2 separate regions of the Homo sapiens genome follow, and region 2 is linked to region 1. Evidence: fine-mapped expression QTL. A gene starts in region 1. The other region holds a variant in brackets. All regions are shown on one strand. Distances are between the middles of the regions.

What was found. PIP is the estimated chance that this variant, and not a neighbour inherited with it, causes the effect.
Region 2: its variant is fine-mapped to the expression of GRHL1 in whole blood (INTERVAL, PIP 0.95).

What each region holds. Positions count from the first base shown.
Region 1 is chr2:9,949,522-9,954,892 of GRCh38, reverse strand. It overlaps GRHL1 (grainyhead like transcription factor 1), which reads right to left and starts at 3,200. Exons shown (of 16, transcript NM_198182.3): 1 at 3,040-3,200. The coding sequence starts at 3,059. It overlaps LOC105373422 (a long non-coding RNA gene), which reads left to right and starts at 4,040. Exons shown (of 3, transcript XR_922784.4): 1 at 4,040-4,188. RefSeq lists silencers at 2,910-3,449, 3,540-3,589, 3,690-3,739, 3,890-3,969.
Region 2 is chr2:9,975,997-9,981,367 of GRCh38, reverse strand. All of the region lies in intron 8 of GRHL1 (grainyhead like transcription factor 1), which reads right to left. Among named protein-coding and RNA genes, the nearest start is that of GRHL1, 27 kb to the right of the region's middle. The variant G/T (reference allele first, on the strand shown) is at 2,370.

The DNA.
Region 1 (5,371 bases):
ACAAAAACACACACTTTTCTACTGCAAGGTATCATAAGCTACCAATTCCTTGACATTCCTATAAAATAGCCTATTGTTTCATCAATGACCCTAGGAAGTCAAATTAAGACAAGACCAGAAGACAAACCACGTAAGTGCAGACCAATGGGTCCCACAGTAAGACATAAAGTATCTAGGCAGCCAGAGAACTGGCAGTTCACCTACACGTGGAACCCAGGGTATACTATTTGGCAAAAAAGCGAAACAAAACCATCCCCGAGAAAATGCCAGGCTATTCAAATACTTTCCATAAACAAACACAAGGACACAGTAAAGAAAAGAGAATACTTGTTCTCTTCCAACACACAATCAGGACTGTCCCCTCTTGAGAAGAGCGTGTGCCGTTCATCACACTGCTACATGTTATTCCCTCTTTCTACTGTGGCTGCCATGCCTTAAAAATTCCTACCTGAACACAGTGGGGAGGGGAGAAGCAGCAGAAAGAAAAAGGGATCCTTCACGCAATCCTCCAGGGTATATGAGAAAGCCAGAATATTCTACTGATTACCAGCAGATTGAGCATGGAATGTGGCCAAAGGGGACTGTAAATCAATAAAGAGGCATAATTTTCTGGCATGGGAGTTAACTGTTTATCTTAGAGATAAACACTTAAGGATATCCAACAATAAATGAAGCCACTGAACAAAAAGTTTTAAAAAAAATAGGTGGGAAAATCTGGCTTTTAAAAAATCTTTGCTAGTTTTCCACATTGCACAAGAACTGTTTCATTTTAACACTGTAGTTTGGTGGGAAAAATCCAAAAAAATCAATGGCGATCTTAGTGAAACCTTACAGAAGATTTAATTTAAAAGATTAAAGCAAACATTACTAATTCCAAAAACTTGAAATGTAAACAGTCTCAACAACTGTTCGGTTGGTACTATTTAATAAGTCAATAAAGAGAAAAAATGGAACACTGACTCTAGCAAAACAAAGCAGTTTATTTTCAAGGAGAAAAATAAATTTTAAATGTTTGGAACTCCTCTGAATTATTACAATTCTAACAAGCAAATTGAAGGACTGGCTCTCATTGCAACACACAAATGAAATATGTAAATGGCCTAAAGGTGACCTGCCTATTTTAAAAGTGAATGTAGAAAGACTGATTATCTTTTCAAGTAATCAACAAAGGTTAGCGTTTGGGAGTCACCCAGGGCCTTTAAGAACAGATACAGATTTAGAAAAAGGAGAACATCTTCAAAAAAGGGGAAAAAAATCCAACAATGTATCCTCAGTCAAAATGAAGTGTTATTTGAAAGCCAATGTTTTTACTCACGTTTTGGCATAAACGTTACATTTGGTAAGAAAGTCTTGAGGTGGTATACTATTTTAACACAAAACAAACATAAAAGACTGTTCAAAGCCAGCAGATCATTTGTCTAAAAATGGAGAAGATTGCTTACACAAATCTCAACTTTAAAGAAAATAAAGAAATATACAAAGTGGCATTCCCTGAGCCATCAGGACCAGAGTACAACAGCTACTGAACGGCTGGTGCCATGGACTGATTGACTGATGTACTGCTAAGCTATAATTAATAGCGTAATAGCTACTTCCAGAAGACTATGACAGCACTTGGCTGTTCAATTCCCTTAATGCTAGTTTTCAACTTCCCTTCTTCTCCCACCCACATCCCAAATTTGTACAAGCAATAGAAAACAGAGAAAGAAATGGCTTTATGTTTGGAATCACCCTGAAGGTGTTTCATATTTCCAAAGCCTGCCTAAGGCCAAAATGTTAGCTTTGGAAAATTTGCCTTATCTAAACTATACGTCAAGAAATAAACACAAAACCAGTTGCCTTTCTTAGTCCACTTCCTCATGACAGTCAGGAAGTAGGCTTCAGTCGCCGAAGGCTCATCATCACTTTCAGGTGAGCCTTAAACTCCGCGTCTGCGATCTCTCAGACTTCTGAAATATGTTTCAGGCAATAATTTAACTGCATATTCTACAACATAAGAGTAATCCATTTAAGATACTCCATACAAAATATCTATCTCATCCAGAAAAAGAACACACTGACAAAAACCGATCCTTCACAAATAACTAAGAAACTGGGAGGGGTACCTATCTGCCTTAAACTTCCTGATCTGAAATATACTGACTGGCCTGGTGCGATTTCCCTGTTTTTTCTTTAGTAAGTTTTTAAAATTTTTAGGACAATTTTATATTTTCAGAAAAGCTGCAAAGAAAATACAGAAAACTCCCTCGCCCAGTTAATCCCCCATGCCTTATTACACTACCACCTCACATTTGTCGAAATACGCTTTTAAATCACACACTCTAAAAAGCATATTAGCTTGTACAGTACTTTCTCGTTTAACACCCGGATTTCAAAGTTTCATCCTCTTGATTCTCTCGAGCACTAAAAACACGGTAATCTGTAATTACCATCAATGATGCAAGTGGCAAAATAACTCCTACAGCCGTTTTCCCACTCATGCCGCCAGCCAGGGAAAAGAAAACGCCCGGACATCGGGGCACTTCAACCTTTCCCTACATTTCTGTTTTGGAGGTTCCAGCAGGTCGCCGAGTGACGAGCCTGAGACCACAGATTACCTGGAGAAGTCCACCTGTCCCGACGCGGCGCGAGCCCCACCAGGCTCCCGAGGCCGACCGGGCAGGAGAGGGGGGCGGGGAGGCCCGGGGGCGTTGGCTGCGCCCCGACCTCGCGCCGCACCCGACCGCGCCGGGGGCCCGGACCCCAAGGTGCGCGCCCGAGGGGACCCAACCTGGCCGCGGAGGAGGGGAGGAGGGTGGCCCCTCCGGTGTCGAGTTTCCCCGAGGACAGGGTCTCTCCTCCCGAGGCTCCGACCGAACAAAGAGCACGGCAGGGCTAAGGGGCAAAGGCCGTGGCGGCGTGGAGTGGACAGCGGCCCCCGGCTCGCGCCCCGCGCCCGCCCGCCCGCGCGGCCTCGGGTCTGCGCCCGGCTCGCTCGCTGCAGGTGCGGCCCCTCAGCGCGGCCCCCCCGCGGCGGCCGGACTCCTGCGCCTCACTCACTTGTCGTACTCCTGTGTCATCGCGCCCGCTCGCCGCTGCCGGGCCGCAGAACTGGACTTTCGGGTTGGGACAGTACACCCGATCCGGGGGGAGGAGGCGGCGGCGGCGGCTGCGGGTCCGGAGCGGCGGCCCCGACGGGTTGGGTTTGCTTTTCTCGCTCTGAGCCGGCTCCGCGCGGGCTGCGCGCACTGGGCGCCGGGCTCGGCCGCTCATTGGCTGGCGATGCGCCGGCTGGGGGCGAGGCCTCGGGGCTGGGAGGCCGGTCGCGCCTCCTGATTGGTCGGCGAGAAGAGCGCCGGGGCGGGGCTGACGGGGACGAGCGGCGCGGGGCGGGGGGCGGGGGCCGCGCGTTCCGCGAGGTTGCGCCCGGGACTGCGCTCCCGGGGCTGCGCGCCCGACTCGCGGCCGTACGCGCCTGCCCTGACAGGAGAGGGAGCGCTGCGGCTGCGGCGCGCACCCGCCAACCTCCGCGCGCACCGAGAGCGCCCCCGCTCGCGCCCCGCCACCGCCCCCGCCGCCCCCGCCGTCCCCGCCGTCCCCGGCCATCCCCTTCGCGACGAGCCCCGGCCGTACAGCCGCCTCCTTCTTCGCTCACTCAGGCCTCCGCGCCCCGTGCCCACATTGCCCGCTGTTCCGGCCCCAGCGCCCCGCGCTGCCCCTGCGCTCGCCCGGCGGGGGCGCCTCTGCCGGTCGCCGCGCTCCCCGGTCGCGCGTCTCACCTCTCGGTTCTCGCAGGCTGTCACGCCCGAGTCCCGTGGCTTCCCCCGAGAGCCGTCTCCGGAATGTCCCTTCTCCTGGCCCACCGCGGCCGCGCGCTTTTAGGATTTCTTGCCCTCGCAGCTCCCGCGGTCCCCTCGGCGGCAGTCCCTGGGGCTCCGCGATGTCTGTGCCCCGCAGCCTCCCGGGCGCCACTTCCCCGCGCGGCCGCCCCACGCTGCCCGTGCAGTCGCGCGCCCCGGGCCGGCCCCGGGCACCACTCCACCGCGACGGCCCCCACTTGTCCTTCCCGAGCTGCCGTCTTTCCCAGGGTCCGCTCACTGAGTCCCCACATGCCCAGCGTCGGACCTGACCCTCGGACAGGCGCGGCCCCAGACGCCGGGGACAGGGCAGTCAACAGAACAGACACAACTCCTCGCCTTCCTAGTTGGGGTAACGGGCAATACAAAAACAAGTAAATGGTGTGGCTGGTTGGAAGGTAAAGCAGGCAGGCCCTGGGGAGGCGGGGAGGAGCGAGGCTTTCAGGCTTGAAGGAGATGAGGGGCCACGAAGGTGGGACTGTACCTGAGGCAGGGACCCTGGTGTGTTTTGTGACCCTTGAGGAGACCCGGGTGGCTGGTGGGGCACAGGGAGGCGGGAGCTGCGGTCAGAGATAGTGGGCGCAGGGGAGCGGATTGAGCAGGGCCTTGCCGGCTTCCGTAAGGACTGTGGCTTTCCCTCTGGGCTAGGTGGGGACGCCTTGGAGGGGCTTGGAGCAGGGTAGTGACAGGGTCTCACATTTTAAAATAGTTCTCTGCTGCTGCGTGGTGGGGACCAGGTAGGAGGCCATTGCCATGATGCAGGCCGAGGGCAATAGAGTGAGGTGGTGGGAAGTGGCCGAATTCTGGATATGCTTTGAAGGTGGGACCAGCAGGATTGTCTGAAAATTGGATATGGGGTGTGAGAGAAAGAGAGAATCAAGGATGACTACAGCGTTTCCAGCTGGGCAACTGGAGGAATGATTTGCCATCCCCTGGGATACAGAAGACCTGGGGCATAGAAGATTTGGGGGAGAACGAGAGTCTGTTTTGGACGTGCTAAGCTCAAGATGTATGGGAGATAAAAATCCATGAATCAGGTGGGCTCCTGGGTACGAGGCTGGAGTGCAAGGGAGAAGTCTGGGCTGAAGCTCACATCTGGGCGCCGCCCACGTCTAGAGGCCATTTAAAGCCATGAGAAGGCAGGAAGGAAAGAGGATGGGACCCATGCTGGATCCAGGAGCCTCCGACACAGAAAGGCTGGGAGGAAGAGCCAGTGGAGGAGACAGAAGACGGGGACACCGAGGTCGGAAGCAATGGAAGCGTGGAAGCCAAGGGAAGGAGGTGAAGTGAGGAGCAGCATGAGGTCACAGGGCCCTCCTGCAGCCAGCAGTCCCTCCTCTGTGCCCTGGTCCAAGGCCTTCAGGGACCGGAATCGGCAGCCTCACTTGAGACCGCCCTTCGCAGTTTCTGTCCTCTGACCCCGGGCCCAGCACTGGATCCATGCAGCCTGTTGTTTGTTCTTACCACTAGTTTCCTGTTTAAATCATTTATTATTTTTTTCTTTTCCTTTTTTTTTTTTTTTTTTTTTTTGAGGC
Region 2 (5,371 bases), 26 kb before region 1:
TCCACTTTCCGCATAAGCGACTTCCTGGCAAGACATCCAGTGTGTGCTGTGCCCATGTGTCACTCGCCTGTGGAAACACACTGTCCCTATCAGCCCAGCCCACACTCATGGAGGGGACCAGGTAAGTTCTGAGGGAGAAGTGCAGCTTCCGGGGAGCTTTATGGTCAGGAGGGTGGCCTTCTTTAGTCTGCAACTGAACAGTTTTGTTTAATGTTAAAAAGCTGCTGGCATACACATATGGCGAGTGTAGAAACACAAGCCAGAGCTCTCCCTTGGGTCCAGTGGGAGCAACAAGATGGGCACACTTTGTTCCTCAGTTTTAACACTTCCCATGGATTCTACCTAATGGGCAGCCCCGAGTGAGCAAGACCACAGGGCTGTTCACCCAAATCCAGGTAAAACCAGGCTCGGACCATTCCTATCCTGCAGACAAATTATCACTGTGATTACAGAAAACACTCCACTATCTTTACAGAGGATGGGAAAGAGGTAAAAAGTAAGATGAATGAGCACACATCCAACTCCTCCTCTATAAAACATACAGGAATGCACGCACACTTAAAAAGCCCCATTTCAGAATCGGAGTAGGCTGAATGATTTACAACCTTCCTTCTCTAGAAAGATGTGAAGATCTCTGACATAAAACTTTAAGAATTCAAAAGATGACCTTTTCTGTTTTCATACTTCCTTCCCAATTATTTTGAGAGAAAACATTTGTATTCAAATAATTAGAACATTAATCTCAAAAGATGAGCAACTACTATTCCCACCCAAATTATTGGAAGAGAAAAAAACTAACCACAAACATAAACTGCTGAACAGGCCAAGGTGCTCTACAAGATTCCTTTTTAAATGTCTAGCCCATTTTTCTAAGGACAGTTCCTCATTCCTGACCAAGAATTTATGCACTTAGAATGTTTCAAAATATTTAATTCTTTTTTTTTTTTTGGTTTTCAAACCTCAGTTTGAAAATGAGAGGAAAACAAAATAAAATGATTTACATAATCAAAGGATTAACTGATACAGACTTTTATTCTAAATGCTCACAAGCACAGAAACCAACAAGAAATCAGATCTTGAACGAATTTATAATGATTCTTCCAGGAAGCACCGCGGCAGCCACATAAGCGCTGTTCACACCTGGCTGCGTCTGCCAAGTTAGTCCTCAAAGAGAAAACAAGGAGGAAAAAGACAAAAAAAAAACAAACCACCAAACCCAGTGTGCTCAAAACACAGATCACCATCAGAGGTTCATTTCACAGCAGGTATAGGGAAAGTAACTGAGAATCAATTTTATAAAACCCCCAACACACCCACTCCTTTCGAGCTTTTATCAACACCACAAACCAAGACACAATTCCAGTAAAGCTTGCTAACTGTCTAGTCTAAAGAGAGTAGTCAGGAACGTGAACTTTAACAAGTGAATTTAATTTGTGGAGAGAAATTATAGAAATATTTTTAAATCTCCTAATTCACAGAAAAGAATGCATGAACAAAGCACTTGGAGTCCATGAGTCAAAAGTTACAAAAACATCAAGTGGTGAAGTTAGGAGCTAAGGGATGCAAATGTTTAATACATATCAGGGTATTTTTCATGAACTAGCAAAAAGGCTGTTGCTCTTTAAAAATTACCACAATGACAGTAATACTCATTCTGTATTATCATTCACCTATAAGAAAATAATCCAACATCCAAATATTAGTCTTAATTTTTTTTTCCACTGAGAAATTTAGGTAGAATTTTACATGGTTTTGTAACGTTGCTGCTATAATGCTGAAAATAATTTCCATAAGACTTTCATAATATAGTTTGCTCAACTGAGTAGAATAAAACAATTTCAAAATTTGAGCACTGGCCAGGCAGTGGCTCACACCTGTATGTGGGAGGATTGCTTGAGTCCAGGAGTTTGAGACCACCCTGGGCAACATAGCGAGACCCTGTCTCTAAAACAGAAAATAAAATAAATTAGCTGGGCATGGTGGTGTGCACCTGTAGTCCCAGCTACTTGGGAGGCCAAGGCGGGAGTATGGCTTGAGCCTAGGAGGTAGAGGCTGCAGTGAGCTGTGTCATGCCACTGCACTCCAGCCTGGGCAACAGAGTGAGACCCTGTCTTTAGAGTAAAAAAAAAAAAAAGATTGAACATTTAGATCCATTAAGACTAATATGAAGCAACTTTATGACAGTTTGGATAAGGTTTCCTTTTTTTTTTTTTTTTGAGAGAGAGTCTTGCCCAGGCTGGAATGCAGTGGCGCGATCTCGGCTCACTGCAACCTCCACCTCCCGGGTTCAAGCGATTCTCGTGCCTCAGCCTCCTGAGTAGCTAGGATTACAGGCGCGCACCACTACATCTGGCTAATTTTTGAATTTT[G/T]TTTTTTGAGAGGGAGTTTTGCACTTGTTGCCTAGGCTGGAGTGCAATGGCGCGATCTCAGCTCACTGAAACCTCCGCCTCCCGGGTTGAAGTGATTCTCCTGCCTCAGCCTCCCATGTAGCTGGGATTACAGGTGCCCGTCACCACACATGGCTAATCTTTGTATTTTTAGTAGAGACGGGGCGTCACCATGTTGGCCAGGCTGGTCTCAAACTCCTGACCTCAGGTGATCCATCTGCCTCGGCCTCCCAAAGTGCTGGGATTACAGGCATGAGCCACCATGCCCGGCTGGTTTCCTTTTTAAAGACCTGATTTTCAAACTAAAATAGAGTAAGTTCATAAGACCAAGTGAGATGTCACAGGTGCTCATCGAGGCAGCATCATCTCAGTGCTTGGGAAAATGAAAGAGCCTAGCTAGGAAAAACCACTAATAGCCTTCAATGGTTCTCTGCAGTGTGAAGGCAGGAATCCAAATTCTCAAGGCCTTCCAAAATCCAGCTCCAAATGTCCATTCTCGTTCACATCTCCTTTACAGGCACTTCCAAACTCTGGGGATCTTCATTTTCTCTGCCCCTGAATTTTAAAATACCCTTTCCTCCATCGTCTACTGACATACATTTCCCTTATGGATAAAGATCCAGCACCAACGGATACACCCTTTCTCATCACCATCCCCTCATCTGCCCAAAGGGAATCCCTCACACTCTCAGCTGTGTCCACTGCACTCTATGTACAGCTCCCTTTTACCACTTACCAAGTTGGACTAAGTAGCTTTTTCCTTCCCTCAAACTCCCTGTGAGGACAGATGATATGGTTTGGCTGTGTCCCCACCCAAATCTCATCTTGAATTGTAGCTCCCATAACTCCCACGTGTTGAGGGAGGGACCCTGTGGGAGATAACTGAATCATGGGGGCGATTTCCCCCATACTGTTCTCGTGGTAGTGAATAAGTCCCATGAGATCTGATGGTTTTATAAGGGGTTTCCCCTTTTGCTTGGCTCTCATTCTCTCTCGCCGGCCGCCATGGAGGACGTGGCTTTCGCCTTCCGCCATGATTTTGAGGCCTCCCCAGCCACATGGAACTGTGAGTCCATTAAATCTCTTTTTATTTATAAATTACCCAGTCTCGGGTATGTCTTTATCAGCAGCATGAAAATGGACTAATACACCAGACTATGAGATTCTTTAGGGAAATGGCCACTTCTCTATACTCTCATTGCCTCGGTCAAGGTCATCACCTGGATCAAGGACACGGAGGGCGGAGTGAGAACCTTAACATTCACCTCTGTTTAACTCCTGTCCCTGTAACACTGCAGTTAGTAAGTTCCCTAGGTCCCTTGAAGGCAGGGATGTTGTTCATTTTAAAAATTTATTCCAGCTGGATGTGGTGGCTCATGCCTGTTAATCCCAGCACTTTGGGAGGCCGAGGCGGGCGGATCACTTGAGGCCAGGAATTTGAGACCAGCCTGGCCAACATGGTGAAACCCTGTCTCTAACAAAAATATAAAAACTTAGCTGAGTGAGGTGGCGCATGCCTGTAATCCCAGTTAGTCGGGAGGCTGAGGCACGAGAATTGCTTGATCCCCGGAGGCGGAGGTTGCAGTGAGCTGAGATCATGCCACTGCACTCCAGCCTGAGTGACAGAGCAAGACTTCGTCTGAAAAAAAAAATTTCTTCCAGTGTTTATTATTATCTGTTATTAAATGGTACTGAATTAAATACTAGTAATGAGAGACAGAAAAACGATGGGCATACAAAATCTACATACTGTCTCCAAATCTTATTTCAACAAGTTTCAAATCCTCATAAAACTTATAAATACATAACAGTGCCCCCACCAAATAAACACAAACAATAAAAAGAGCTAATATAAAGTTACAGAAATTAAACATTTTCTTCCAACCTCTAGTAGAGGACCCCCTAAACAATAAAATGGCTACAAATCAGGCAATGAAATGAAAAAGAGACAGATTGCTTAATATTAGGCAATTGCCAAATATTAGTGTCACTTCAGAATCTTAATAATGTATTCCTAAACATTTGCAGTAGCTTACCACAGTCTATGTGAAAAAGACAACATTCCTTAGCATTCAAGCTATTTATGTGACTCCAATCCACCTTTCCAGCCATACTTTGTACCCCACCTGTAACAGTATTTCCCAAATGTGAATACTACACACATCCTCTTTAAAAGGCAAAAGTTGCTTCACCCCTAAAAATATACCCAGATCTGAGTCTGAGAAATGCCACTCTATTCAAATGACTGCAAAACGTCTGATCACCCAGCACCCCAAGACCTCATGTGGCCTTTATCTGGCCTCAACCCCAAACCTAAGCGCACACCCTGGCACTGACGTCTCCTGGCAGCATTTGACTCTGGTGGCATGCAGGATACGCTTCTGACTAAAAAGTCTCATCACTGACTTGAAAACACATTACACAGCCTCAAAGAACCTCCAACCCCAAGACCCTTGGGGTCACAACATTACACAGCCTCAACGAACCTCCAACCCCAAGACCCTTGGTCCACAGACCCCATGGATTGGAGACAAGCTCCTTGCGAGGGCACCCCAGGGCCTTCCTCTGCAGTCCCCACCACTCCTGGCTCAGAAGACATCAAAGGTCACAGCTCATTCTGGGTTCTGCATGCCAGCCTGGTTCCCACTATCCTTTAGGAACCCCCACCACCACCCCCGCCGAGGGTCACTTGAGAAGTGTGACGAATCTTCCTATTCCAAGTGAGGTTCCCTTCCTTCGTGTCACCTGCAACCCTACGCTTACTAGAGTGCAATCCTCCCACTGAGTTCTGAGTTTTGGGTCATGGATTACTCATCTTTCCATTCCAAGAGCATCTTGGCAGTGCCTGGCCAATAAGAAATACACGTTTCCTGGACGAATGACTCACTTTCCTGAACTCCAGCCAAATAAAACTACATGCTGCTGTGGTATTTGTGCTACTTTTATACCATTCTTTGACCCTCAAAAACACCTATGAAATTGGT